Linked DNA regions of Homo sapiens. The protein of the gene in region 3 interacts with the protein of the main gene of each other region in a pairwise test. Each region holds a gene or a part of one and is shown on either strand. Other genes may lie near its edges.

Region 1 (8,337 bases), about 66 Mb from region 3:
GTACTTGCCCCTTTTGCCATAGAGCACAGCCAAATTGTTGAGTGTGGCAGCCACCTATGAAGACAGGCCTGTCCCCATCAGACATTTGGGTTGCAAAAGACCTATGGGAATCTGAGGTTCCCCACCTCCCAGCAGGGCCCAACACTCACTGCACAACTCTAAGAGACAAAGTCTACTACCCTGGAGCCAGGGGCTGAAGGGAGGGGAAATTGCTGAACAGGATGGCTCTGAGGCTAAGGGACAGTATCGCCCTCTAGGGGATTTTAAGAAATTTCTGGAGGTGTTTTTTTTCTTTCTTTTTTTTTTTTTTTTGTTGTTGTTGTTGTCACCATGAAGATTACCTTTGAGGAGGCAAGAACGCTATAGATGTTCTGCATGTGTGGGACAGCTCTGCCAATTTTTTAATGTCCTGCCAGACATCCAAACGCTAAATGTAAACATTGATATTTGATGGGATATCAAGACAGGAGTATGATTTCTGAGATACATCATCCCTGCCTATCATATGTCATACCATAGGGAATTATTTTCACACAGATCACATTCAAAAATAGCTTTTTGGCTGGACGCAGTGGCTCACGCCTGTAATCCCAGCACTTTGGGAGGCCGAGGTGGGCGGATCACCTGAGGTCAGGAGTTCGAGACCAGCCTGACCAACATGGAGAAACCCCGTCTCTACTAAAAGTACAAAATTAGCCAGGCGTAGTGGCATGTCTGTAATCCCAGCTACTCGGGAGGCTGAGGCAGGAGAATTGCTTGAACCCGGGAGGTGGAGGTTGTAGTGAGCCAAGATCGTGCCATGTTGCACTCTAGCCTGGCAACAAGAGTGAAACTCTATCTCAACAAAAAATAAATAACTTTTCAGCTGGGTGTGGTGGCTCACACCTGTAATCCCAGCAGTTTGGAAGGCTGAGGTAGGTGGATCACTTGAGGTCAGGAGTTCAAGACCAGCCTGACCAACATGGTGAAAACCCATCTCTACTAAAAATACAAAAATTAGCCTGGCGTGGTAGCACGTACCTGTAATCCCAGCTACTTGGGAGGCTGAGGCAGGAGGATCACTTGAGCCTGGGAGGCAGAGATTACAGTGAACCCAGATTGTACCACTGCACTATAGGCTGGGTGACACTGCGAAACTCCATCTCAAAAAACAAAACAAAACAAAACAAAACAAACAAACTTTTCATTTTTCATTTTCTGTACATTGACAACTCTATCATTTGCCTTGGCGTGATATCTCTACTTAAGGTTGTTTCTCTCTTTCCTTTTATTTATATTTATTTATTTATTTATTTATTTTAAGATGAAGTCTCACCCCATCACCCAGGTTGAAGTGCAATGGTGCGATCTTGGCTCACTGCAACCTCAGCCTCCTGGGTTCAAGCAATTCTCCTGTCTCAGCCTCCCGAGTACCTGGGACTACAGGTGCATGCCACCACAACTGGCTAATTTTTGTATTATTAGTAGAGACAGGGTTTCACCTTGTTGGTCAGGCTGGTCTCAAACTCCTGACCTCAGGTGATCCGACCACCTCGGCCTCCCAAAGTGCTGAAATTACAGGAGTGAGCCACAGCGCTGGGCCGCTTCTTATTTTGTTGAGACAGAGTCTTGCTCTGTTGCCCAGGCTGGAGTGCAGTGGTGCGATCTCGGCTCGCTGCAACCACCAACCCCCGGATTCAAATGATTCTCCTGCCTCAGTCTCCAAATAGTTGGGATTACAGGCATATGCCACCATGCCTGGCTAATTTTATATTTTTTTTTTAGTAGAGACGGGGTTTTACCATGTTGGCCAGGATGGTCTCAAACTCCTGACCTCAGGTGATCGACCTGCCTTGGCCTCCCAAAGTGGTGGGATTACAGGCGTGAGCCACCAAGCCCAGTCTCTTCCTCTTATACACAAATAAATCTGGTCTGTCATTTATTTTCTTTTTTTTTGAGACAGAGTTTTGCTCTTGCTGCCCAGGCTGGAGTGTAGAGGCGCGATCTCACCTCACTGCAACCTCCACCTTCTGGTTTCGAGTGATTCTCCTGCCTCAGCCTCCTGAGTAGCTGGGATTACAAGTGCCCCCCACCACGCCCGGCTAATTTTTGTATTTTTAGTAGAGACGGGGTTTCACCATGTTGGCCAGGATGGTCTTGAACTCCTGACCTCGTGATTTGCCCACCTTGGCCTCCCAAAGTGCTGGGATTACAGGCATGAGCCACTGTGCCCGACCCTTGTGATTTCTTATAATACTGTACTTTAATAAAGTGTCCACCTATATTTTCTTTTTTTTTTTTTTTTTTTTTTTTTTTTGAGACGGAGTCTCGCTCTGTCGCCCAGGCTGGAGTGCAGTGGCGGGATCTCGGCTCACTGCAAGCTCCGCCTCCCGGGTTCACGCCATTCTCCTGCCTCAGCCTCCCAAGCAGCTGGGACTACAGGCGCCCGCCACTACGCCCGGCTAATTTTTTGTATTTTTAGTAGAGACGGGGTTTCACCGTTTTAGCCAGGATGGTCTCGATCTCCTGACCTCGTGATCCGCCCGCCTCGGCCTCCCAAAGTGCTGGGATTACAGGCGTGAGCCACCGCGCCCGGCCTGTCCACCTATATTTTCATTTTTTTTTTTTTTTTTTGAGACGGAGTCTCGCTCTGTCACCCTGGCTGGAGTGCAATGGCACGATCTCAGCTCACTGCAAGCTCCGCCTCCCGGGTTCACGCCATTCTCCTGCCTTAGCCTCCCGAGTAGCTAGGACTACAGGCGCCCGCCACCACGCCCGGCATTTTTTGTATTTTTTTTAGTAGAGATGGGGTTTCACCATGTTAGCCAGGATGGTCTCGATCTCCTGACCTCGTGATCCACCCTCCTCAGCCTCCCAAAGTGCTGGGATTAGTGCTGGGATTACACTCGTGAGCCACTGTGCCCAGGCCACTTTGCTATTTCTTTTAACAAAGTTGTACTCAATACAACTACTGTTGTTTTGTATTTTTACCTTATTATATTACATTGTATATATTGTCCTTACAAATTACTTTTCTTGTTTTTCTTTTATATTTATTAGAGTAGCATATTAAGTTTTGTAGAAATCATATGTGGATTTACCTATGACTTATCTATTAATTAAATTCAAGCAAAATATTTGTTATAAAAAGGAGTCACTGAGTCTCAGAGAATTGAGAATCATTAGGATCACTGGACAGTGCCTGGAAGAAAGGACTTCTTATGCCTCCTTCCTCAGCACCCTTAGTGAGTGGACTGAGGGCAGCAGATGGATGAGCTAAGAGAGGCCAAAACAGCAATGGTGGGGGGTGCGGGGCGTGGGGTGGGGAGGGCAAGGAATACTGACAGCAGGATGGTCAGGTCCCAAGGTGCTCTCCCGGATGCTAAGGGCATCATTCAGCAGGTGGGCAGCTTCCTTATACTTATTCTGGTCACTGGAAGAAGACAAAAGTGACAGGAGTTACCCTGAACCCGCAAGCCTTCTCCTTCCCTCCTTCCCTTTGGAAGGACTGAGTACATTTAAGGATTGGAGACCTCCATGAGGAGACAGGAAGCCTGGCGTGGACAGTAAGGGGGCTTCACTGACATACTCATACCAGAATGCAGGGCACTGCCATCCCAAGAGGAGGCCACAAGTTATAAGAAGCAAGGGGGCAGGGGGAAGAGAGGGAGAGAGCACTCCCCAGAAGAGAGATTAGAGGAACAAGGATCCCAAGGGATGAGCAAATGCTTAGGTATGGGAAAAGTGAGAGTTCTGGCACATAAAGAAGCACCCTGTTGGGGTGTATCTGGGAGGCCCAACAGGGAGGAGAGGTACCCTGTAAAGAGGAAAAATGAAAGCCAAAGGAGGACCAAGGTGGGAATGTGGGGGAAGATCTGGGCACTGGAGGAGGGAAGTCCTCACCGATACACCAAAGCAAGGATGTTGAGCATGGTGGCGACATCAGGGTGGCCACGGCCTGATGTGCGCTCCAGGTCCTCTAGTGCCTGCTTACAGAGTGGCACGGCCACCTCATAGCGACCTTGGGCTGCGTACTGGATCACCAGGTTGTGCAACGTCCGCAACCTTGCTGGGATCTCATATCCACCCTGCTGAGCTGCTGTAGCACCTTGACCACGGGACACTAAACCATCACAGAACATAAACAAAGGACTCTTCCTCTCCCCTTTGCTGTCTGCCCTTCCACTCCCCATTGCATGTCTTGTTCCATACTTGTGCCCACCCCAACCTGGACTCTCAATATTAGACCTGCCTCAAGTGCTATTCTTTTATCCACTCCCTTGACCTATGCCCATCACAACCTCAGTTGTTCACCCAGTAATTCATGCATTCAACAAACATTTATTTAATAAGTATGAACCAAGGGATGTTCCAGGAGTACAAAGGTAAGAAAGACCTGGTTCTTTCCCTTGGGGGGCTCATGGTCTCCCTGTCTCAGGTTTATTCTCCCACTAGACTGTGAACTCCTTACTGGTAAGACCTATGCCATTTCCATCTCAGTACTCCTAGTGCCTAGCACAGTACCTGGCACATATTCAGTGCTTAATACATGTTCGTTCAATGGGGAGGCTGAGGAAATCGAAGTACTAGCCCAGCCCCTGCCCTGTCTCCAGAGAAAGTGGAGAACCTATTTCTAGATGGTGACTGTCCTGTGTACAGGGTGGGCCACAGCTAGGGCCAGCCTCCTGCTGCCCCTTTTCACCCTCCCATTCCAGAGGCAGACTCACAGCCATTGCTGGGGTCCTCTTCCTCCTCATTAGGAAAGAGGTCATCCAGGGAATCCTTGGTGGCATCGCCTTCTTTCTCCTCCTGGAAGGGAAGAAGCAACATATAAGGGCCAAGATATCCCTACCTAGTAGCCTTCTCAGTGACCCCTCTAAGCCATGAAATCACAGACAGATGGGACCTAGGAGAAGACTGTTGTTCCTGTCTCTGCCCCTGGAAAGGCTAGCAAGTGGCCCAGCCAAGCTCAGGCCTCTTGTTTGTAACAGCCAGAGATGCTTTGGACAAAATCTCAAGACTTCCCCTCCTTCTCATACAGAAAGTTTCCTTCCTGGCCGGGTGTGGTGGCTAACGCCTGTAATCCCAGCACTTTGGGAGGCCGAGGTGGGCAGATCACCTGAGGTCAGGAGTTCAAGACCATCCTGACCAACGTGGAGAAACCCCATCTCTACTAGAAATACAAAATTAGCCGGGCGTGGTGGCGCATGCCTATAATCCCAGCTACTCATGAGGCTGAGGCAGGAGAATCGCTTGAACCTGGGAGGCAGAGGTTGCGGTGAGCCGAGATCATGCCATTGCACTCCAGCCTGGGCAACAAGAGCGAAACTCTGTCTCAAAACAAAAAAAAAAGAAAAAAAAAAGTTTCCTTTCTAACCACCCTCAATCTTGCCTTAACTCTTGTAATTATGGCCCTATGCTGATCTCTGTGTGTTTACGTTGATTGTATGTCTGTCCTGTCTCTCCTGAGGGAAGGGAGTGTGGCCGATCTTATTGACATGTACCCAGAAAGTGTCTAGCTCAGCCTGGTGCCCATCATCTGCACAGCTCATTCTGGACTTACTACGTAACCCTCCCTCACTGTCTAACCTATTCCGCACTAGGAAAATCTGCTTTTCCCCATCAGGAACTGCAGCCTCATCCAAACACCAACCCTCCTACCCAGCTTCACCAATGTGTCCTATGCAATTCATCTACTCACTTTCCCTGGGACAGACCAGCTTTTCCAGGCTGTAAGCCTTATCAATGACACCCTGCACTCCAGTCTAAAAAGCTGCTCCCTCTTCCTCATCATGAACTTTCAAAATCCATCTCAACTCCTAACCCACTCAAATGGGAAATCCAACCTATATCCTACCCATCCCTGTATCCTGCTTCCTCTATTTTTTTGTTTGTTTTTTGAGACAGAGTCTCTAGTCTGGCAACAGCCCAGGCTAGAATGCAGTGGCATAATCACAGCTCACTGCAGCTTCCACCTCCTGGGCTCAAGCGATCCTCCCACCTCAGCCTCCAGAGTAGCTGAGGCTATAGGTGCACACGACCACATCAGGCTAATTTTTTAATTTTTTGTGGAGACAGGGTCTCACTATGTTGCCCAGGCTCCCTGCTTCCTCTATGAATTCTTCTTAGACCATTCCAGCCCTCAGAGACATTTCTCTGTGAAATTCTTCCCACACTGACTGAACCACTCATCCAGCACTGAGCACTTGCTGCTTTGTATTTTGTCACATATATGTTCTCCTGGATAAGACTTGTTCCCTACAGATACATCTCAAGAAAACACACACTCTCAGCCAGGCGTGGTGGCTCACGCCTGTAATCCCAGCATTTTGGGAGGCCGAGGGCAGGCAGATCACTTGAGGCTAGGAGTTTGAGACCAGCCTGGTCAACATGGCAAAGCTCCATCTCTACTAAAAATACAAACATTAGCCGGGTGTGGTGGCAGACACCTGTAATCCCAGCTACTTGGGTGGCTGAGGCCCAAGAATTGTTTGAAAGCCAGAGGCGGAGGCTGCAGTGAGCTGAGATGGCATCACTGCATTCTGTTGAGCGAGGGTTAAATTTCACACATTTTGGACCGGGCATGGTAGCTCACACCTGTAATCCCAGCACTTTGGGAGGCCCAGGCGGGCAGACCACCTGAGGTCAGGAGTTCAAAACCAGCCTGGCCAACATGGTGAAACCCCGTCTCTAGTAAAAATACAAAAATTAGCCAGGCGTGGTGGCAGGTGCCTGCAATCCTAGCTACTCAAGAGGCTGAGGCAGGAGAATTGCTTGAACCCGGGAGGCGGAGGTTGCTGTGACCTGAGATTGCACCATTGCACTCCAGCCTAGGCAACAAGTGTGAAACTCCGTCTCAAAAAAAAAAAAAAAATTCACACATTTTGAAAGCAAATTTTAGGAGGGTCATGCTCAACTGGGTTATGCTTTCCCTAATTGTACCACGTAGAATTCTGGATTGGAATTGTCCAGGTGCTTATCTATCTCCCTCACAAGCTTGTAATTGTGAGAGCAGGAACTCTGTGTGCCCCATTCACCAGTGCAGTGCACAATGCCTGGTACACAGTAGGCATCTCATTAAATGTTGACTGAATTACCTGAATATTGTTTTTCCCCTTGCTGTCACCTGGAGTTGGTGTCAGGGCTGAAAAAGGAATTCTTTCAGGTGAGAGCAGGTTGGGTAGAGCTGATGGACCCTGAGGATGATGGGGCAATTGCCCCCATGTCTGTGGTAACTCCCGGCTGCCCACCCCTCAGCCAGTCTCGCCTGTGCACACTCACCGAGGTATGTCCATCCTCATCATACTGCCGCAGCTGCCCCAGGAACTCCAGGTGCTTCTTTTCCTCCTCCAGCTGAGCCACAGCCTGTTCACTGCGCTGTAGCCGCTGCTGGGTGCCAGCCAGCTCATCCCGCAGCCACTGGTTCTCCTGGCATAGCCGCCGCACCTGAGCCCGCAGCTTCTGTTTCTCCGACTCCACTGTGCTCAGGTGGCTGGCTAGAGCCAGCATCACCTAGGTGGGCACATCCCCTGAGCTCCAGATTCTGGGTGGGAGTATTCAGGAACAGGTGGAAGGGGAGCCTACTGGGACGTGGCAAGACTGGCAGGGGCACAGAGGAGCCAGAAGGTGGGGGTGTAGCAGTGGTGCTACCTTCAAAACATACCCTGAATCCAATTTCCCACTACCTCCACTGCTGTCACCCTGGACCAAGCCACTATCAATTCCTACCCAAATTATTACAATAACTTCCTCACTGGCCTCGTTTCTGCCCTTGTTCCCCTATTGTCTATTTGTAACCCAACAACCTGATGATGCCAAGTTAGACCACATCACTCCTCTTCTAAAAACATTCCAATAGTTTCCATCTCGCTCAAAGTAAAATCAGGGCCAGGCACAGTGGCTCACGCCTATAATCCCAGCACTTTGGGAGGCCAAGGCGGGTGGATCAAGAGGTCGGGAATTCAAGACCAGCCTGGCCAACATGGTGAAACCCCATCTCTACTAAAAATACAAAAAATTAGCCGGGCGTGGTGGCATGCGCCTGTAGTCCCAGCTACTCGGGAGGCTGAGGCAGGAGAATCGCTTGAACCTGGCAGGCAGAGGTTGCAGAGAGCCAGGATTGTGCCACTACATCCAGCCTGGGCAACACTGCGAGACTCCGTCTCAAAGAAAGGGCAAAATCAAAGTCCTCGGGGTGGCCTACAAGTTCCACTTGATCCATCTCCCTCCCCTCCAACCCCATTACCCCTCAGACTTAATTTTCTACCTTGCTTCTCCTCATTCACTCTACTGCAGCCATACTGGCCCCTTGCTGTTCACTGACCTCACCAGGCAGACTTCCATTCAGAGCCTCTGCAC
Region 2 (5,492 bases), on a different chromosome or scaffold from region 3:
TTCCACTGTTAGTAAAATGTACTGGATTTCACTTCCCCACCCCGCGAGATGGAGTCTCGCTCTGTCACCCAGGCTGGAGTGCTATGGCGCAATCTCGGCTCACTGCAACCTCCGCCTCCCGTTCAAGTGATTCTCCCACCTCAGCTTCCCAAGTAGCTGGGATTACAGGCACCTGCCATCATGCCTGGCTCATTTTTGTAGTTTGTAGAGTCGTGGTTTCACCATGTTGGCAAGGCTGGTCTTGAACTCCTGACCTCAGATGATCACCCGCCTTGGCCTCCCAAAGCGCCAGGATTACAGACGAGAGCCACTGTGCCCGGCCAGATTTCACTTATGAAGATGACAGTACCTAGTTAGATGAAAAGCTCAGAAAACTTCCTTTTAAGTATTGAGTTTCAAAGTAATGTCATGTAGAGTTTTTTTTAATAGTTTAAAAAATGTATTTTGAGAAATCACTTATTCCTCAAAAAAATAACTAAAAATCTAAATAGTAATGATTTAACCCCATTACATTTTCTTTAGAGAATCATAGACTATTTTAAATATCATTCCTGATTGGTTGATAAAGTTTCCAAGAGATACAAGGGATGGCCTGACTTGCAGGCAGGGAAGGAAGGTGATGCGGGAGATAGGACGTGAGGTGAGGTTGCTGGCTTAGTGAGACACTATCAGGAAGAATTTGGAAAAGGAGGCATTTTGCTGTCCTGTGATAAGATGGGGTGAACTGCTGATCAGGGGGTTGAGGAAGGGGGGATTACAAAGGAATACAAGAAAGGAACTATGTGTAATATCTTGAAGAAAGTCAAACAGGTAATATTAGATAAGGAAACTTTCACAGAAGTAATTCAATATAAAGTTATGTAGTTGGTATATTTGGCAAAACCAAGACTAGAACTTTCTTCTGAATTCCTGTTTTAAAGTTCTTTCAGACAGGATCTTGCCACCATTCCTCAGTAACCCAAGTTTGGTCATTGTTAAATGTTAATATTAGAAAGTACCAGTACCTCATAGTAGCACCCTAAATTCTTATTAATCAAATGGGGTTGGCTTTTGAAGACATTAGTATTAAAAATAAGATATAAGATGGAATGAAAAATTAGACATGTTAAAACATAGATTAGCATTTTCTAAGCTCTTCTTGATATTCTCATGTTTAAAATTTATTTTGTTGCTTTGTTAAAAGAATTGTTTCACTAAATAATATACTTTGAATGAGTTAGTGGCTAGGGGGTTTGTTATGTTTTCCTAGTGGTAGTTAGGACCATTGTTCTTTAATGTTTTAATCTTGTGTATTAGGTATGGTGAACCGTGAAGTATTAGAACAAGTGGAGCGAGGATACAGGATGCCGTGCCCTCAGGGCTGTCCAGAATCCCTCCATGAATTGATGAATCTGTGTTGGAAGAAGGACCCTGATGAAAGACCAACATTTGAATATATTCAGTCCTTCTTGGAAGACTACTTCACTGCTACAGAGCCACAGTACCAGCCAGGAGAAAATTTATAATTCAAGTAGCCTATTTTATATGCACAAATCTGCCAAAATATAAAGAACTTGTGTAGATTTTCTACAGGAATCAAAAGAAGAAAATCTTCTTTACTCTGCATGTTTTTAATGGTAAACTGGAATCCCAGATATGGTTGCACAAAACCACTTTTTTTTCCCCAAGTATTAAACTCTAATGTACCAATGATGAATTTATCAGCGTATTTCAGGGTCCAAACAAAATAGAGCTAAGATACTGATGACAGTGTGGGTGACAGCATGGTAATGAAGGACAGTGAGGCTCCTGCTTATTTATAAATCATTTCCTTTCTTTTTTTCCCCAAAGTCAGAATTGCTCAAAGAAAATTATTTATTGTTACAGATAAAACTTGAGAGATAAAAAGCTATACCATAATAAAATCTAAAATTAAGGAATATCATGGGACCAAATAATTCCATTCCAGTTTTTTAAAGTTTCTTGCATTTATTATTCTCAAAAGTTTTTTCTAAGTTAAACAGTCAGTATGCAATCTTAATATATGCTTTCTTTTGCATGGACATGGGCCAGGTTTTTCAAAAGGAATATAAACAGGATCTCAAACTTGATTAAATGTTAGACCACAGAAGTGGAATTTGAAAGTATAATGCAGTACATTAATATTCATGTTCATGGAACTGAAAGAATAAGAACTTTTTCACTTCAGTCCTTTTCTGAAGAGTTTGACTTAGAATAATGAAGGTAACTAGAAAGTGAGTTAATCTTGTATGAGGTTGCATTGATTTTTTAAGGCAATATATAATTGAAACTACTGTCCAATCAAAGGGGAAATGTTTTGATCTTTAGATAGCATGCAAAGTAAGACCCAGCATTTTAAAAGCCCTTTTTAAAAACTAGACTTCGTACTGTGAGTATTGCTTATATGTCCTTATGGGGATGGGTGCCACAAATAGAAAATATGACCAGATCAGGGACTTGAATGCACTTTTGCTCATGGTGAATATAGATGAACAGAGAGGAAAATGTATTTAAAAGAAATACGAGAAAAGAAAGTGAAAGTTTTACAAGTTAGAGGGATGGAAGGTAATGTTTAATGTTGATGTCATGGAGTGACAGAATGGCTTTGCTGGCACTCAGAGCTCCTCACTTAGCTATATTCTGAGACTTTGAAGAGTTATAAAGTATAACTATAAAACTAATTTTTCTTACACACTAAATGGGTATTTGTTCAAAATAATGAAGTTATGGCTTCACATTCATTGCAGTGGGATATGGTTTTTATGTAAAACATTTTTAGAACTCCAGTTTTCAAATCATGTTTGAATCTACATTCACTTTTTTTTGTTTTCTTTTTTGAGACGGAGTCTCGCTCTGTCGCCCAGGCTGGAGTGCAGTGGCGCGATCTCGGCTCACTGCAAGCTCTGCCTCCCAGGTTCACACCATTCTCCTGCCTCAGCCTCCCGAGTAGCTGGGACTACAGGTGCCCACCACCACGCCTGGCTAGTTTTTTGTATTTTTAGTAGAGACGCAGTTTCACCGTGTTAGCCAGGATAGTCTCGATCTCCTGACCTTGTGATCTGCCCGCCTCGGCCTCCCAAAGTGCTGGGATTACAGGCGTGAGCCACCGCGCCCAGCCTACATTCACTTCTAAAGTCTATGTAATGGTGGTCATTTTTTCCCTTTTAGAATACATTAAATGGTTGATTTGGGGAGGAAAACTTATTCTGAATATTAACGGTGGTGAAAAGGGGACAGTTTTTACCCTAAAGTGCAAAAGTGAAACATACAAAATAAGACTAATTTTTAAGAGTAACTCAGTAATTTCAAAATACAGATTTGAATAGCAGCATTAGTGGTTTGAGTGTCTAGCAAAGGAAAAATTGATGAATAAAATGAAGGTCTGGTGTATATGTTTTAAAATACTCTCATATAGTCACACTTTAAATTAAGCCTTATATTAGGCCCCTCTATTTTCAGGATATAATTCTTAACTATCATTATTTACCTGATTTTAATCATCAGATTCGAAATTCTGTGCCATGGCATATATGTTCAAATTCAAACCATTTTTAAAATGTGAAGATGGACTTCATGCAAGTTGGCAGTGGTTCTGGTACTAAAAATTGTGGTTGTTTTTTCTGTTTACGTAACCTGCTTAGTATTGACACTCTCTACCAAGAGGGTCTTCCTAAGAAGAGTGCTGTCATTATTTCCTCTTATCAACAACTTGTGACATGAGATTTTTTAAGGGCTTTATGTGAACTATGATATTGTAATTTTTCTAAGCATATTCAAAAGGGTGACAAAATTACGTTTATGTACTAAATCTAATCAGGAAAGTAAGGCAGGAAAAGTTGATGGTATTCATTAGGTTTTAACTGAATGGAGCAGTTCCTTATATAATAACAATTGTATAGTAGGGATAAAACACTAACTTAATGTGTATTCATTTTAAATTGTTCTGTATTTTTAAATTGCCAAGAAAAACAACTTTGTAAATTTGGAGATATTTTCCAACAGCTTTTCGTCTTCAGTGTCTTAATGTGGAAGTTAACCCTTACCAAAAAAGGAAGTTGGCAAAAACAGCCTTCTAGCACACTTTTTTAAATGAATAATGGTAGCCTAAACTTAATATTTTTATAAAGTATTGTAATATTGTTTTGTGGATAATTGAAATAAAAAGTTCTCATTGAATGCACCTATTAATCGTTTTAGTTGCTATTCATATTCTCATTCGTTTTTTAAAAACTGATATATTCTGAATTTATTCTTCCATTGAGAAAAAAATGTTCAGTTACTTGTAACTACTGAGCAGAATTTAATCAATCCTTTATTAAATTCAGAACATTATTGAACTCATTCTTTGTGGTCAATTTTCTTTTTTTTTTGTTTTGTTTTGTTTTTTTTTTGAGACGGAGTCTCGCTCTGTCGCCCAGGCTGGAGTGCAGTGGCGCGATCTTGGCTCACTGCAAGCTCCGCCTCCCGGGGTCACGCCATTCTCCTGCCTCGGCCACCCGAGTAGCTGGGACTACAGGCGCCTGCTACCACGCCCGGCTAATTTTTTGTATTTTTTAGTAGAGACGGGGTTTCACCATGTTAGCCAGGATGGTCTCGATCTCCTGACCTCGTGATCCGTCCGCTTCGGCCTCCCAAAGTGCTGGGATTACAGGCGTGAGCCACCGCGCCCGGCCTGTGGTCAATTTTCTATGTCAAGTGAGTGACATTATTTTTACAAGTATTTTCTTCTTCTTAAAATTATACCAGCAAATACAGTTAATGCAGAAACCTAAGTAATTTGAGTGTAGCTATTCACAATCTATGTGAAGAATATAAAATAGAATGACCAGTTTTATTATAAATTAAGGGGCTTAATTTTCTAAAAAAGAAAAAAAATGAGCCTTATCTCTGTGTTTTATAATTATTATATAGGATAATGAAAATAAAATTGTCTAATACTAAATTTTGAATGGTCATTCAAAAGCATTTATTTTCAATAAGTTAATTACAAAATTATTAGCTTTTTCTCTGATTTCTAAAACACTTCATTTAGTAAACATTTATTTTTGTAGTATAGCAATAGTTCCTCAATTTAAGAATGTTTTTCTAGTTTCCTGTTTGCCTTTTAATTTTCCATATAATTTCTGACATGTAAGTTGTACATTTGTAGATTGTCAAATCTGTTCATTCCTTTTTTATGTTTAGAAGTCTTCATCCACCCCAAGATTAATATTCATCTATCTATATTATAGTTTATGCTTCTGTGTGTGTGTGACAGGATCTTGCTCTGTTGCCCAGGTTGAAGTGCAGTGGCACCATCATGGCTCACTGCAGCCTCGACCTCCCAGGCTCAAGCAATCCTCCCACCTCAGCCTCCCAAGTAGCTGGGAGTACAGGTACGAGCCACCTTGCCTGGCTAACTTTTGATATTTTGTAGAGACAGGGTTTTGCCATGTTGCTTAGGCTGGTCTCAGAACTCCTGAGCTCAAGTGATCCGCCTGCCTCAGCCTCCC
Region 3 (8,337 bases):
AATACTATGCAGCCATAAAAAAGGATGAGTTCATGTCCTTTGTAGGGACATGGATGAAATCAGAAATCATCATTCTCAGTAAACTATCGCAAGGACAAAAAACCAAACACCGCATGTTCTCACTCATAGGTGGGAATTGAACAATGAGAACACATGGACACAGGAAGGGGAACATCGCACTCTGGGGACTGTTGTGGGGTGGGGGGAGAGGGGAGGGATAGCATTAGAAGACATACCTAATGCTAAATGACGAGTTAATGGGTGCAGCACACCAGCATGGCACATGTATACATATGTAACTAACCTGCACATTGTGCACATGTACCCTAAAACTTAAAGTATAATAATAATAAAATAAAATAAAATAAAAAGACAAAATAATAACCAGTCAATTACCTGATTATCATATAGATCAGAGATTTGGTTATCACAAGAAATGTACTATGTGAATTCATCAAGAGCTAAAAGTTCAAGGCCTCCTTTATCTCTGAGTATTGACTCTCCCAGAGTTATGAAAATACATTTGTAAACAGCTCATTAATTACACAGAACTGGTTTAATATTGTCTCCTCCTAAAAATTCAGAGGGCACACTTCTGAAAGAGGAGGATGTCAGTAACTTGTGGGATGATAAATATCCTGGTTGTTGATGGAAATAACATCATCTGGAAAAACAGAGGCTGAAAGTTTCTTACCTATCAATATATTTCTTCTCTTTCAGGAAACTCAAGTATATGCATCTACCACTCTCATTTTCCCCTGTTCTTGACTGCTGGCAGAACAGTTAATTCCACAGCAGAAAGCAACCTATTTCTAATCCTTTAACTCTTTACTTTCCTCACCCCTTTCTTCTACTTTTGTCCAATTACCTCAGAAATATTTTTCTCCCCATTTGTTCATTCTACTTCTAAGTTGAAACACAAACTTGAGCCTTGTTTATGAGGATGAGTGTAGTGTAAAAAGGAAAAAGAAAGTCTTAAGTTTTGAAGTGAAATTACTTAAAAGACTTATGTTCTAAATTTCTAAAATTTTTCATAATTTCCACAGAAGCCTCCCCCATTTGCCTATGTCTTCTAATTAACCTTGCTTTCCTCTCATTAAATAAAATTCTTTTGTATTCATTTTTATTGGTTTTACATTGTTTAATTACTAGTGTTGTTCTGTATTTCAAATTCTAAAGTTTAGTGTTAACTGCAAATACAAATAAATAAAATAAAAAATAAATATTCAATTACGGGTTAAATTGGAGTTTGTTGGCTATTCTGAAAATATTCTAATTTTTAAACACAACTTGTCTAAAATCTTAATTTTTCCTTTAATTTCTAGAATTTATGAATTATGATAAGTAAGATATGATAGAGGTAAGTTCAAAACTGTATCTTTTTCTCACAAATATCAAAAGGTCTGAGAACAAAGTCATGAAGTTTGAATATATATAAGAATAAAGATATCTGAGTACATCGGCTTAGACTAGGTTTATTATTTTTGAACTGTAAACTCCAGTAACCCCCGGTTTCTGAGAACTACTGCATTTCTTACCTTTTTTCTGCTTTATCAGCTCCTGGTGTGCCAGATTTCTCTCATTTGTTTCATTCTCTAAGGCCTTCTTATACTGTGCTGCTTCTCTGGAAAGAATGTTCAGGTTATCTTCAGCTTGTGTTCTCTCCAGCTCTAAACGATGAATTTTTTCCTGAAGAGTTTTTAAGGCTAAAATAAGAGCTGTTGAAAAAAAATTTTGTTGATATTTTAAGTGAAAGTTTCTGAACACTTACAATCAAAGTAACATAAGAAAAATAAGCAGTATATTTTTGTTACTGAGCCAGAAAAATGTACAAGTAATGCATATTCTTCAAAAAATGAAAAATAATGACTAACACTTTGAAGAGGCGCACATTTTCTCTCTAATATATCTTGTAAAAACACTATATCTATTATTGTATTTAGTGGTTTCTAAGACTGAGAAAGGTAATAACCACAATTTTAATTTAATAAAATATTTACAAATGAAAGGACTTAAAGACAATGTACAGTCTGGGGAGCATAAGAGTATAAATATGAATAAGAACATTAAAATATAATTTCTACTAATTAACATGGCAATTTAGGTTTAAAGTTATAGGCTTTTTTTCTCAGTTCTTGAGGTATTCCGTTTTAGTCAAATCACACATATTTACTGTTTCTTTGTCCATGATGCAGTATTAAGAACCAGGATAATTATAACCTAATGGTTTACCTGATGTCAGACCTGAAAGATAATAGTATTCTATACTACTGTGACTTATATTCAACTATATTAATATCTTCATGCTTCAGATAAGTTCAGAGTTTTAACTGTCATATAGTTTATATCAAATTAGAAAGATGCTTGCTAGAGATTACCATTTTGTTTTTATAAATGAGATAAATAAATTATATTTATTCCTCTTTACATGATATCTGTAGCTGGCACATTGATTTGCATTATTATTTCTTATAGTTTATTCCACAAAACTAGTTTATTTATTAACAGCAACCATTATTATAGAAGATTTTAAAAGTAGGTGATATCAGCATCTCAGAAAAGAATTTGCACAGCTTAAAATATGCCTGGAGTAATAAAATGTTTTCCTAATTCAATTTTAAGATCCTCCTACATTTCTATTTTAAACGTTAAAATACTAGTATTTTGTAGTTACTCTGATATACTGGCTTCCTAAAATATTTTCAAGAATAATTTTGGATATATGTAATTTCTGAATCTAATTCTTGAATAAGATGCAATTCCATTTAATTCACTAACATTCTAATCATCTAGTTTAGTATTCCAAATCTGACCTTTTATTCTTCAAAGAGTATTTTCCTGTTTTCAAATGATGTTTTTATGATAACTCTGTGATATGTGTCCAGCTGGTTGTATTAATCTTCATTTTATGGCTGAAGAAGCCAAAATAAAAAATGTCAAGTAATTTGTCTAAGTTCATAGAAACTTTTAGCAACAGAATCAAAGTTAGGAGTTTTGTTAAGATTAAATATGCAATCATATTGTATTCCACATAAATATGAAAAGTTTTTTATAGCATGTTTTTACCATTCTTCAAATTTTATATCAGCATTACCTTGGCTATTTGGGCTATGAAGTATCTTAGGAGAGGTAACTTCTAAGTTTGCAGGATGGCAATTCTGAGATGGTTCATTCTGGGTGAATGAGGGAACAAATACTCTTTCTGGAGGTTTATGATAGCTTCCTACTATACTATGCATTAATTCAGAATCCATTATCTGTAGAGAATAAAGGAATGATATAGTATCATGCTTTCCTATTTTAAGGGTAAATGCATTATACAAAAATTCAGGTGAAACTTTAAAAACATAATCATATACTGTGGAGTTGTATCTTTATGAACTTAATTATAAATTCAACTCTAATAGGCTTGGCAATAAAAGAAAGAAAAGTTACTATTTCTTGTGTAAGCAGTACTGACAATTCTGCCTGATTTTCAATAATCATATACCCTGGAGTAAGCATCACATGAGTGATTTGAATTTACTGGTTTCTCAGTTACCCATAAATCCCATATACCTATCATAGTCTGAGCACTTCTCTATAAGCAGTGTGACTCTAGGATTTAAAGAGAAAGTACATATTCTAAAAGATAACTGAGCTTTTAAACACAAACCAACAATATACACTGATTCTCTAATACTGATTGTTGAATTCTAATGTATGGCTTCCTAAGGGATTTTCAAGGGTAATTTTGGATATATGAAATATCGGAATTTAACCTTTGAATAAGACACACCTCTGCTTAATGTATTAGCATTTTAATCATCTAGATTAGAAAGTTTCCAAATCTGAAGAATCTAGACTACTTAGTTTTGTTAGTCTGGTTTTTATTTTGTTGTTGTTTTTGTTTTGGTAAGAGAGCCCTTTTAACCATTTAAGCAGGTAATTTTTGGTCTAAAATTTCCAAATAATTTTATTTTCCTTTCTGCAATTTAAATATTTTAGAAATGTATTCTATTTTTTAATAGATTCCAGTCAATGTTAATTAAATTAATTCATAATCACATAAGGTGATAACTGCTTACAAAAAAATAACTCACTGGAAGAATTTTAAGCAAGAAAGCTTGCTTCAAAATGGAAATCCAAGAATTACACTATAACATTAGCCTATTTTGATTTTTGAGAGTTGTACATTTTCCATGATTTCACCACCTCCTCAATTCACAAGGCAAAGGCAGGCACTTCCCAGGATAGTATTTTCTGGAAGGGCAGAAGGCACACTTCACTTCCTAGAATTTTCTACTTTAGCCATTGCCATGATTGGCAATCTCCTAGAACATTCTGATTGGTCTAAATTAGAGGCTATAAAGCCTAAGGTTTGCTAAGATACTTGATGCTTTTTGTTCTTGCAAGGTAACCATATTTTGCTATTGTGATTAGTACCAGCTATCTCAGACACTGCCTGCTCCCCATGGGATACCGCATCTATCTAAGTTGTTGTTCCCTCAAAAAACAAGAGATCAACATTAGTCACAGCTGGCTCACTATAAAGTGGAGGTAAGGCCCTAAAGTACGTAAATCCTGAAGATGGTTGTACATCTTCAGAGAGAGGTAAGTTGTTAAAGCTATCCCAAGAATACTGGAGCTACTCAAGAAATCTGACTTAGTTTTCAGCTCCGGGTGGGTTTCTCCAATGACATAAAGAATGAAATTTTGCTATTTGTCACTACACACTGAAGTCCTTGGGAGGTCTCTGCTTCCTCTGACCTAAGTATAATATTATTTCACAAACCGGATTTTGTACCAGTTAAAAAACTGGTCCAAATTTGAGGTTTTTAATGTATATGAAATAATGACTAGTTAGAAGATTGCCAGTAAGTTAAAAAGTAGACTACAGTTTATTTAAATTAAATGTGTAGACACATATTAAAGTGGGCACAAGCAGAATAATCCACTGATAGGATAAAAACAAGATGAAGAAAAAGAAAGAAAACAGTAAAGAGATGAGAGGACAAGTTATGTTGTGACACAGAGCTCAGAGATTCTCATTGTAATGGGATCTCAGCTTAACCTTTATAATCTGGTCCTGTGTTGTAAACAAGTGCATAAGCCTACTGGAAGCTTATTTATATAAAGCACTGAAGCATCCTGGGAGAAAAACTCACTCTGAAAGAAGGTGAAGTAACTACAAAAGGCTTGATCCAAAATAAAAGCCTTAAATGACTAAGGAAAGGAGGAGTGATTCTGAGTAGACTATGATGGTGGTCATTCTAATTTATCTCTGACCTAGTGCCATGGACTCATATGTGGGTTCTAAAAAGAGAGAGAGTTTAAATAAAAACTGAGAAATGTTTCACCAATATCTCTATAAAATATCAAGGCATTAGCTTCCCTGCTTTGTGTAAGATGTTACATGACAATGGAGGGGGAGTCAGATTGCTAACACAGTTTTGGCCCCTTTCTGGTGCATCAGTTAGTAGTATTCAGTGAGAGAGAGAGAGAGAGAGAGAGAGAGAGAGAGAGAGAGAGAGAGAGAGAGAGAGAGAGCAAGAGAGACAGTGAACAAGAGTGAGAAAGCGAGAGAGCAACAGAGAAACAGAGAGAGCACAGATGGAAGGGATACATTCATGGGCACATATGAGAAATATTTCTAGGGAAAAATTTCTGAAAATACAGAGAAGTACCTAAATCACAATCTCTAGGATTCCGGTATTTCTGATACCAGACTTAGCTAGCTGTTGGTAACTGAAAAGACCTCAGGAATTCTTATGGAACATTTTATAGGTGTCTTCAAGTAAGGGCAAAAGGCTATAAAATGTGAACCTCATTTGTATCAAGCCTGAGAAACTCAAGTTGTACCTTTTTTTTTTTTCTTAAAATTTTTATTTATTTTTTCTTTATTTATTCTAACAACAAACAAACAAAAAATGGAATACATGTGCAGAACGTGCAGGTTTGTTACATAGGTATACATGTGCCATATTAGTTTGCTGCACCTATTGACTCGTCCTCTAAGTTCCCTCCCCTTACCACCCACAGGCCCTGGTGTATGTTGTTCCCCTCTCTGTGTCCAGGTGTTCTCAATGTTCAACTCCCACTTATGAGTGAGAACATGCAGTGTTTGGTTTTCTGTTCCTGTGTTAGGTTGCCAAGGATGATGGCTTCCAGCTCCATCCATGTCTCTGCCAAGGACATGATCTCATTCCTTTTTATGGCTGCATAGTATTCCATGGAATATATGTACCACATTTTCTTTATCTAGTCTATCATTGATGGGCATTTGGGTTGGTTTTCCTGAAACCATTCTTGACAGCTTGTGAACAACCAGGGAAATTACTCACTGTTTTTATGGTTTATAAAATTAAGATACCCCAATTGGCTGCAACTAAGAACCCATTGCATAAAAAAACTATCCCCCTAAAAAGAATGCTCTAGACACAAACACTTTACTGCAAAGCATTTTTACTTTTTATAGAGGAAAACACTTATTCCATAGGACTGCTAGGGAGACGACATTAGGGGGCAGTCAGAGATACTATAGAAGACTTTTGAAATAAAGGAATCTCTGTTTGCTGTAACTGCTACTTCTTCCAAGTTTGGATTTTTCCTTAGAGAAACTGAAGAAGGATCAACAGCTCAGTTTCTTTGATCTGTTTTTTTCTTTATGTATGCATCTATGCTAACTTACCTTAAGAGCAAACACAGTAAGGCTGGACTAACTCTTTTATTTTTTAATGTATAGTACTTTAGGAAGTACTATAACTTATTATATCTTATTATTATCTTATTATAACTGAATAAGATAATTTGTGGTGGTGGAACTTACTTATAGATATCCCATAATAATTATATAATGTATTATTTATAATATAAAATCACCAAAATGTTAAGATGTGACAATAAAAACTGGTCAATAGAAACTAGTAAATACACGAATGTAACATAAATACTTCAATGGGATTCAGCTATTCATTTGTTGATCATCCAATAAATGATGTTAGAAAAATTGGGGAAACACTTTGGGAGGGAGAGGTGGGCGGATCATGAGGTCAGGAGTTCGAGACCAACCTGGCCAACAGTGAAACCCTGTCACTACTAAAAATACAAAAAATTAGCCAGGCGTGGTGGTGGATGCCTGTAATCCTAGCTACTTGGGAGGCTGAGGCAGAAGAATCACTTGAACCTGGGAGGTGGAGGCTGCAGTGAGCCGAGATTGCGCCACTACACACTAGCACAGGCAACAATGTGAGACTGTGTCTCAAAAACAAAAGAAAAAAATGGGGAAAAAATCCATTTAAGGCTTCATCTTGCCCCATACATCAATACAAATTTCAGATAGCTACAGAGTCAAATAAAGAAAACGCAGCTGGGCGCGGTGGCTCATGTCTGTAATCCCAGCACTTTGGGAGGCCGAGGCGGGCGGATTACGAGGTCAGGAGATCGAGACCATCTTGGCCAACATGGTGAAACCTCATCTCTACTAAAAACACAAAAAATTAGCCGGGTGTGGTGGTGGGCGCCCGTAGTCCCAGCTACTCAGGAGGCTGAGGCAGGAGAATGGCGTCAACCCGGGAGGCGGAGCTTGCAGTGAGCCGAGATCGCACCGCTGCACTCCAGCCTGGGCAACAGAGCGAGAATCCATCTAAATAAATAAATAAATAAAAAACTCTAAAAATTATTTTAAGAAATCAGTGAATATTAAATAACCTTAGAATAGGTAAGATATTCTATGTTTAAAAGTAACAGAAAAATAAAGGAAAAGATACAAAAGCTCTGTTAAAATTAATACAACATATAAGGCCGGGCGCGGTGGCTCACCTCTAATCCTAGCACTTTGAGGGGCTGAGGCAGGCGGATCACGAGGTCAGGAGTTCGAGACCAGCCTGGCCAGCATGGTGAAACCCCGTCTCTCTTAAAAATACAAAAATTAGCCAGGCATGGTGGCGCACACCTGTAGACCCAGCTACTCGGGTGGCTGAGGCAGGAGAATCACTTGAACTCGGGAGGCGGACGTTGCAGGGAGCCGAGATCGTGCCACTGTACTCCAGCCTGGGTGACAGAGAAAGACTCTGTCTAAAAAAAAAAAAAAAAAATTAATACAACATATAAAAATTATAAACAAAATTGAATGACAAAAGACAAACAGAAGTAATTAAGTGCAATGAAGAACAAAGGGTTAATGTTAATATGTAAAGGGCTTTTGTAAGTCAAAAGAAAACTACTAACGTCATAATAGAAAAATGACAAGTGGCAAGTGCTTGTAATCCCAGCTACTCAGGAGGCTGAGGGAGGAGAATCGCTTGAACCCGGAAGGCGGAGGTTGCAGTGAGCCGAGATCAAGTCACTGCACTCCAG
Region 4 (8,337 bases), on a different chromosome or scaffold from region 3:
TTCAAGCGATTCTCCTGCCTCAGCCTCCGGAGTAGCTGGGATTACCGGTGCCTGCACCCTCGGCTGCCTAACTTTTTTGCATTTTTTGTAGAGACGGGTTTCACCATGTTGGCCAGGCTGGTTTCAACTCCTGACCTCATGTGATCTGCCCAACTCGTTCTCCCAAAGTGCTAGGATTACATGCGTGAGCCGCCACACCTTGCCCATACCACTTTTTTAAAAGCCCAAAGATTCCTTTCCAGATTACCACAACCCATCTTTCCCTTAGGAAACAGATGCATTTATACTGCCTTAAACTCTTAACATTTCTAAAGTCCTTGAAGGCTCAATGAGAGTCCAAACTCCCATCTGTGTATTGTTCTCAAGCCTACTATACTGCCTTGCTCCAATTGGTGCTCTGTAACTATTGTTGATTGATTAGTTGTATTTGTCTAAAATGCACATCTGATTGTCACTCCCTTGCCTAAAACCTTTTGATGTCCCTTAGGCTGAAGTCCTGAGTCTGTAGTGGCTCACAAAGGCCTCTAAGGAGTGGACCTTGCTGTTTTCATTTTGTTTTGTTTTTGAGATGGAATTTCACTCTTGTTGCCCAGGCCTGAGTGCAATGGTGCGATCCCGGCTCACGGCAACCTCCGCCTCCTAGGTTCAAGTGATTCTCCTGCCTCAGCCTCCCAAGTAGCTGGGATTACAGGCATGTGCCACCACGCTTAATTTTGTATTTTTAGTAGGGACGGAGTTTCTCCATGTTGGTCAGGCTCCATGTTGGCCAACCTCTCGTGATCCACCCACCTCGGCCTCCCAAAGTGTTGGGATTACAGATATGAGCCACCGCACCTGGCCCGACCTTGCTGATTTTTTTTAAGCTTTCTCTCTGCAGTGTTCCAGCCACACTGCACTGTGTTTCAGTTCCTCGAATATGCTCTCTCACTCCAGGCCTTTGCCCAGAACAGTCATTCTTGCTTATCTCCTGACCTTGTTGACTTCTACTCATCCTGCAAGTCTTAGCTAAAGGACTACGGACTCCATTTAGGTCATCTTGTATGCTCATGTAGCACCCTATGCTTCCCTATTGAAATGCTCATCACATCTGTAATATACGTGTTTAATTTTCTGTCTTCTTAGCTACACTTGAAAGTTCCTTAAGTTACATCTGCCACACTCACTGCTATATTACCAATTCCTAGAACTGTGGTGCATAGTAGGGAGCCAACAAATATTTGTAGAATGAGTGGAATAAATGAAACTTTCAGAAGACTCAGGAAGTGATTTTTAGAGATAGACTGAAAAAAGAACGTTGATGATAATCATATTAAAGCAGACTCTTTTTTGCTATAGTTAATAATGTATTCATTGATTTATAGTAATTTTGTTAAGCCATGTTAAATAGTAATTTTAAGACTGCTTAAACATTATTTCCCTTGACTACTTTGCACTACTAGGTCAACTAGATCTCTTTGGTTTCTTCTAGTCCCTCCAAACAGGATTTGTGGGTAGAATTATATATAATCTAATGTAAATCAGTACGGTATTCTTCAACTGGGGTTATTTTGATATACTGTGAAGCTAGTGTATTTAATACATGACCATTGTTAACCTTAATGGTCCTGCCAAAAAAAAATTAGACTTGTGGCAAAAGCCTAAATTTGTATCTCTATGCTTTATCTTTCTCTGAACCTTCCTTTTCCTCACCAATAATTTCACATTATTATATTATAAAAATAAAACATAAGTACATCATTTCTTTATTATGACATAAAATAAATTTCTGGTACTTTTTCTTTCCCACATCAAATGAAAGAGCTCGTTTTATGCATATAAGGGACCAAAGGTAGTTGGTAGATATTGATTCTTCCTTGATACATGTTGCTCCCTTAATCTATAGCAAACTACATAGCTTTGGCAGTTTTGACATTTTTTTTGACTACTTAGTTGGTTTTAATTCCTAGGAATAGGAGAGATAATTGTTAATACATGGGTGCTGCTAAAACTTACTTGTCATTCCAAAAGCTTCAGCAACATCACTTATTTATTTGTTTATTTATTTATTTTTAGACAGAGTCTCACTCACTCTGTTGCCCAGGTTAGAGTGCAGTGGCTCAATCTCTCCTCACTGCAACTTCTGCCTCCTGGGCTCAAGTGATTCTTCTGCCTCAGCCTCCCAAGTAGCTGGGATTACTGGCGTGTGCCACCATGCCTGGCTAATTTTTTATATTTTTAGTAGAGATGGGGTTTCACCATTTTGACCAGGCTAGTCTCAAACTCCTGACCTCAAGTGATCTGCCGGCCTTGCCCCAAAGGGCTGGTATTACAGGCGTGAGCCACGACGCCCAGCCCTTCAGCAACATTACTTTTAATACAATAGAAATTTTAGATTATTCTGCCCATCCCCCTCACTTTTGTGACCAAGAAAGCACTGTTTACAGGTCCAGGATGTACTGTTTAAAGGTTAACAAAAGGAACTTACAGAGTCCTGCAAAAACAAAAAACAAAAGAACCATGAAATTGGAGAACTCAAAACTCCTATTCCACCAAACCAACCACAAATGATTTTTTAAAAAAACTTAAACAGGGTGGAGTGCTTGAGGTCAGGAGTTCAACAGCAGCTTGGCCAATATGGTGAAACCCCACCTCTACTAAAAATACAAACATTAGCTGGGCGTGGTGGCACCCGCCTGTAGTCCCAGCTACTCGGGAGGCTGAGGCAAGAGAATCACTTGAACCCGGGAGGTGGAGGTTGCAGTGAGCTGAGATCGCGCCATTGCACTCCAGCCTGGGTGACACAGCGCAACTCTGTCTCCAAAAAAAAAAAAAAAAAAAAAACTGTCAAACAGCTCTCATATATCTGAAGTTGGCTAGAATGACAGAAAAGAGCACCATCAAACTGGGAATCTTGTAAACTATCACTGTGCCCCAGATGTTACAAAAATGAGCAAGAGGAAATAAAATCTAACGAGAGCTTGTTGCAGATAATCAGGAAATAACTGTTTATACAGATCAACTTTGGAGACTACCTGTTCCACTCGGAAACAGGTAAAGCCTGTTAAGTCTAGCCGGTCGTGGTGGCGGGCGCCTGTAGTCCCAGCTACTTGGGAGGCTGAGGCAGGAGAATGGCGTGAACCTGGGAGGCGGAGCTTGCAGTGAGCCGAGATCACGCCACTGCACTCCAGCCTGGGCGACACAGCGAGACTCTGTCTCAAAAAAAAAAAAAAAGAGAAAGCCTATAAGTCTGTACTCCAAACAGAATTGAATATACTCAAATAAGCATTTGAGGGTATAAAAATGTTTACCTTGGCTTAGAATTTTTAAAACTATTAATAAGAATGGAAATGATGACTAAAGGAGAAATGAAAAAAGAGTTGATGAAACAAAGGGAAGAAATGGAAGAAAAAGACAATTACCTCATAAGTGAATAAATTGTAAGATACCTAAGGGAAAATAGACTGAAATGAAAGCAAGAGGCAATGAAGAAAGGCATAAAAACAACGAAGAGAATTGAAAATGACAAAGAAAAAAGTAAGATGAATCCGAGAAAGTAGGGAATGGTAGGTAGATAGGCAAAGACATAATATTCATATTATCAGAGTCCCTGAAGAAGAAAAAGAAATGGAACATAATTCATGTTTAAAAACATAATCCAGCAAAAGTTTCCAGAAATTGAAAAAAAAACTAAATCTAGAAAGGGTTCCCTAGGTACCTGGAAAAATTAACCCAGACTTATTGACTTTTGGGATATATTTTAGTACAACTATTAGATTTCAGAGATAAAGATGAAATCATCAAGTCTTCTGTGCAAAAAGAACATATAACTTACAAAGGCAAACTTACAAAAAGCATCACATGTTGAAAAACTGACATACAAAGCAAGGCAACATAGAGCAGTGTTTTTTTTTAAAGCTCAATGAAGGTGTGAATTGAAGGATTTTATATCTAACTGAATGTTCTCAAATGTCAAGGTTATAGAAAAAGAGTTTTCGACATAACGAAAACCTGGGTAATTTCTGTACCTGCTGGCCATTTCTGAGGAATATACAAGAGAATGAGCTTTATCCAACCAATTGATGACTGGAAAATTTTCAGCAAAAGGACTAATACAGAGAGGATGAGGGTGGAAGATTTGTGTAACCGTTGGGTATTGCAACAAAGTACAGTATTGCAACTAAAATGATGGAAGGAGAAAAATGGATAATGTGTGGGCAATAGATGGGTTTTAAAGACTACTGCAGAGGAAAAAAAACCTGACACACCAGATAGTAAAGTGTTAAATAAGAAAATGGGTAACTCTAGGATTTAAAAAATGTGAGTAGAAAGGTAACCAGTAGAACAATAATAGAAATATCAACTCCCCCTCAATTTCTAAAAATTAAATGGAAAAGAAGGGTATGCATTTCATAATGAAAAACAGCTATTACAACAAAATACAAATAATTAGAAAATATTGTGATAGAGTTGAGACCAAATACATTAGTCTTAAGCAACCTATTAAAAAAGGATTTTCAATTTGGCTTGTAAAACAAAAATCTTGGGATGACAAGAGACACATCTAAAATAAAATGATTCCGAAAAGCTAAAAATAAAGGGTTAGACCAAAGTATACCAAGTAAATGGAAACAAAAATCAAGCAGGAGTAGTGATGCTGATATCAGACAAATAGTATTCAAGCCCCAAAGTATTACATGTGATAAAGGACACTTTTTAATTTATATCTTATGGAGGTACGTATACATAAAATTTGCTCCCTGCTAATGAGAACTGTATGACATGTTCACAAAAATTGATTATGTATTAGGTCACAAAGGAAACATCAATGACATTCATAACATAGAATATTACTAACAGGTTGCGTGCAGTGGCTCATGCCTGTACTCTCAACACTTGGGGAGGCCAAGATGGAAGGATTGCTTGAGCCCTCGAGTTTGAGAACAGCCTCGGCAAGATAGGGAGAACCTGTATCTACAAAAAATAAAAACAATTAGCCAGCTGTGGTGGCACACACCTGTGCTCCCAGCTACTCAGGAAGCCAGGGTGGAAGGATCACTTGAGCCTAGGAGATTGAGGCTGAAGTGAGCCGTGATTTTACCACTCCACTCCAGCCTGGGCAACAGAAAAAGACCCTGTCAAAAAAACAAAAAGAAAATAAATTTCCAGCTCAGAAAACAAAAAAAGAACAACAAAGTAAGTGAAAAGAAAATACTAGAAAGGAAATAATAAAGATAACAGAAATTAATGAGGAAAATAATACTTTTTGTCCGAGCAATCCCATTTCTAGTAATTTATACCAAAGGTACCCCTCCAACAATATGAAAATACATGTGTTCAATACTTACTAGTGATGTTTAGCTTGTTTCTGTCTGCTTGTTATTCCTTGCAGTATTGTTTGTAATTGCAAAATATTTGAAATACCTTAAATATACAGACGTAGGAGAGGAGAGTGTTGAATACGCTATGGGAAATCCACACGGTAATATTTTGCAGCTAGAATAAAGGATGAGGAAGGATTAATTCAGAGTAATTTCCAGTACATTCTATTAAGTGAAAAAAGCAAAGTCCCAAAGTATATGCCACCTTTCATGTAAGAAAGGTGTGCCAGGTGTAGTTTATTGGCTCTCATCTTCAAATTTACCTCTTTTTCCTGCTCTGTAAAAATGGACCTTGGCCTTTTAAATACTTTTCTTTTGCCAACTAGCACATCCTTAAGCTTTGTCAGTGAAGGGCAATGGAGAGACTTCTCAGGAGTCTCAAAGGTTTTGCTTCCTGATCTGATGTGCTGGCTCAGCAGGATCCTGCAGTGCACACAGCTTCCCCAGTGCCCAGCTCCTGCAATACACTGCAGTCTGAAGCACCCCGCGCCCAGCAGCTTTCCTGCCAACCCCATTTCCCTCCACAGCTCCCCTGAACAGGTTTTCCTAGTGCCCTTGAGGGTGGATTTCCAGCAAGTTCCACTGATGCAGTACCATAGCAACTTCTTTCTCCAGCTCGTCTGGATCTCTGTCCAGGAAGAAAAAAGGACTTCCCTGCGCTCTTTCTCAGCCCTAGGGGTAGGGTGCTCCTTCTGTTTGCTATTATTCTATACTTCAGTGTTCCCTTTTACTGCTTCCTTGCCAATCCCTCATTATTCCAATCCTCTGTTAAAGTTATTGAATCCTTAACCTTTGTTCAAATTGCTGTTCTTTTTTTCTTCCTAATTGAACTCAGATTGATACAGGAGATAACAGAGTATACACAAATATCTGTTTATTTGAACAAAGGAAATGGAAAGGACAAACCAAAACTATAGAGACTGATTGCCTGCAGGGGTGGGTGGGAAAGGGGTGGAAAGAAGGGAGGGAATGGGAACAGGTTAGTAGGAACAAAGAGGGAGTGACACTTTTGACTCTTAGGATCATAGTAATGTGTCACATATTTTTCACACACCCCAAATGTAATCAGACAATTAAAACCAACTAGGATGTAGGGGGAACCCAAAACTGAATTCAAAAACTAAAAAATAAGGCTAGTTGTATTACGGATGTGTAATATAACACCACTGAAAAGGGTGGGGAAGAAAGAACTAAAGTCTGTATTAAAGCCTGTCTTTTTTTTTTTTTTTTTTTTTTTGAGCACTTCATGAATTTGCATATCATCCATGCACAGGGGCCGTGCTAATCTTAAATATATTGTTCCGATTTTTAAATAATAAAATGCTACCAAAAGCGTATCTTGATATAATGTAAAGGTGAAGACAGAACTGTTTATAATTTAGTGTTTCTCACAGGGGTATAGGTTAGCAATTCTGTAACTATTTTATGTATTTACTAGAATTGAACAAATCATAGGTTGCCAACAGTGAAAGCTGGATTTCTCACTTGTGGAGAAAGACGTTATAAACAAGGAAATGTTAAAGGCTAAAATGAATCCTGTGGTTTTAGTTTGGGATCAGAAGTATCAGTATAAACTCATAGTTTTAAATGTATGACAGTAAAATACAGAAATACAGATATTTATACATGTATAGGTTAGTATACATACATATATTTCCTGCCTATCTCAGCTGAGAGGCCTAGAAGCAGTGACTCCAGTAACAATGAGAACGCCTAGAACCCAGATACTGGTCTCTAAACACCTTTTTCCAGTAAAGGAACTAGGGCTCTTACAAGTGGTTGATTCCGGGGACGAGACAAGAAAAATATAGGATGGGCCTTGAGCATCTTGTGGTGCCGGAAAGTAAGGGAATATTAAAAAAATAAAAAATAATTTTAAAAAGGAGAGGACTTGCTGAAAGAACGGGAGCTCCTAATGATAAAGCTGTACCAATTTGAACAACAAAATAGTGATAGTATTAGATTTTAACCCCAGAATAAAACAATTATCTGTAGGTTCATACTAATAGAAATGATGAAATAAACAGATGGGAGGAAAGAGGCAGGTCTTCCTCAAAATATAATTCCAATGAATAAATGTAGAAGATCCAATGAATAAATGTAGAAGAAAGTAAAGACAGAATTGCTATTAGGCATACAGCACAGTAATAAATGTTGCAGACATAATCTATCAGTGAATGCTAAAATTCATGGGTGAAGTTTGAGGAGAAACAAGATTTGCATAGTGTCAAAGTATCTCCCCCAAAATATTTACCAAGTTCATAGAAAATAAGGTGTCTTTCTGGTGCAGGAACCTGGCAGACAGAAACAAGCTAAACATCACTAGTAAGATGTCATATTAATATCATGAACATCTTGATATGATATAATGAGAAGGGCATCATTGTAGTATTCTTACCAAAATGCTAAATTTATTCCTATCATGAGGAACTAGCGGTCAAACCCAAATTGAAGGACATTCTATAAAATAACTGATTAGAGCTCTTTGAAATTGTCAAGATCGTGAAAGATAAGGAGAGACTGAAGTATTTTAACAAACTCAAGGAGACTAAGGAAAAATAACAGATGCCATGTGGGATCCTGGATAGGAATCTGGAACAGAAAAAAAAAAAAACGAGTAAATTAAAAATTGTGTGAAATTTTAAAAAGGCGTATAGCTAATAATATTGTGTAAGAATTTATTTCCTGTTCTTAATTGTCTCATGATCAAGTAAGATGTTGACATAAGGGAAGCTGAACAAGAGATAGAAGGGAACTTTTTCCTGCTTTTGCTACTTAAAATTAGTTCAAAATAAAAAAACTTGAATGTTAAATATGTTTTTGAAGCCCGAATAACAAATGTTGAACTTTGATTTTTTTTTTTCTTTTACATCTACAACAGGGTTAGAAAAAGGTTCTTGGAACATCGGGAAGAAACCATTACAATAGATCGAGCCTGCAGACAAGAAACATTCGTTTATGAGATGGTAATTAAGAGTCT

What was found.
Region 1: the proteins of CEP57L1 (region 3) and KLC4 interact in binary tests that used the Homo sapiens proteins (3 or more experiments, as listed by UniProt).
Region 2: the proteins of CEP57L1 (region 3) and YES1 interact in binary tests that used the Homo sapiens proteins (3 or more experiments, as listed by UniProt).
Region 4: the proteins of CEP57L1 (region 3) and SNAPC3 interact in binary tests that used the Homo sapiens proteins (3 or more experiments, as listed by UniProt).

What each region holds. Positions count from the first base shown.
Region 1 is NC_000006.12:43,062,071-43,070,407, reverse strand, and holds part of KLC4 (kinesin light chain 4), read right to left. Parts: intron 7,492-8,337; coding exon 7,261-7,491; intron 4,789-7,260; coding exon 4,707-4,788; intron 4,103-4,706; coding exon 3,883-4,102; intron 3,413-3,882; coding exon 3,325-3,412; coding exon of another isoform or gene 3,256-3,324; exon of another isoform or gene 3,011-3,255; intron 55-3,010; coding exon 1-54.
Region 2 is NC_000018.10:720,437-725,928, reverse strand, and holds the end of YES1 (tyrosine-protein kinase Yes), read left to right. Parts: intron 1-1,296; coding exon 1,297-1,505; 3' UTR 1,506-4,341; downstream 4,342-5,492. UniProt on the Homo sapiens protein: Non-receptor protein tyrosine kinase that is involved in the regulation of cell growth and survival, apoptosis, cell-cell adhesion, cytoskeleton remodeling, and differentiation.
Region 3 is NC_000006.12:109,140,139-109,148,475, reverse strand, and holds part of CEP57L1 (centrosomal protein CEP57L1), read right to left. Parts: intron 8,056-8,337; exon of another isoform or gene 7,801-8,055; intron 3,258-7,800; 5' UTR 3,255-3,257; coding exon 3,095-3,254; intron 1,719-3,094; coding exon 1,539-1,718; intron 1-1,538. UniProt on the Homo sapiens protein: Centrosomal protein which may be required for microtubule attachment to centrosomes.
Region 4 is NC_000009.12:15,425,314-15,433,650, forward strand, and holds part of SNAPC3 (snRNA-activating protein complex subunit 3), read left to right. Parts: intron 1-8,238; coding exon 8,239-8,323; intron 8,324-8,337.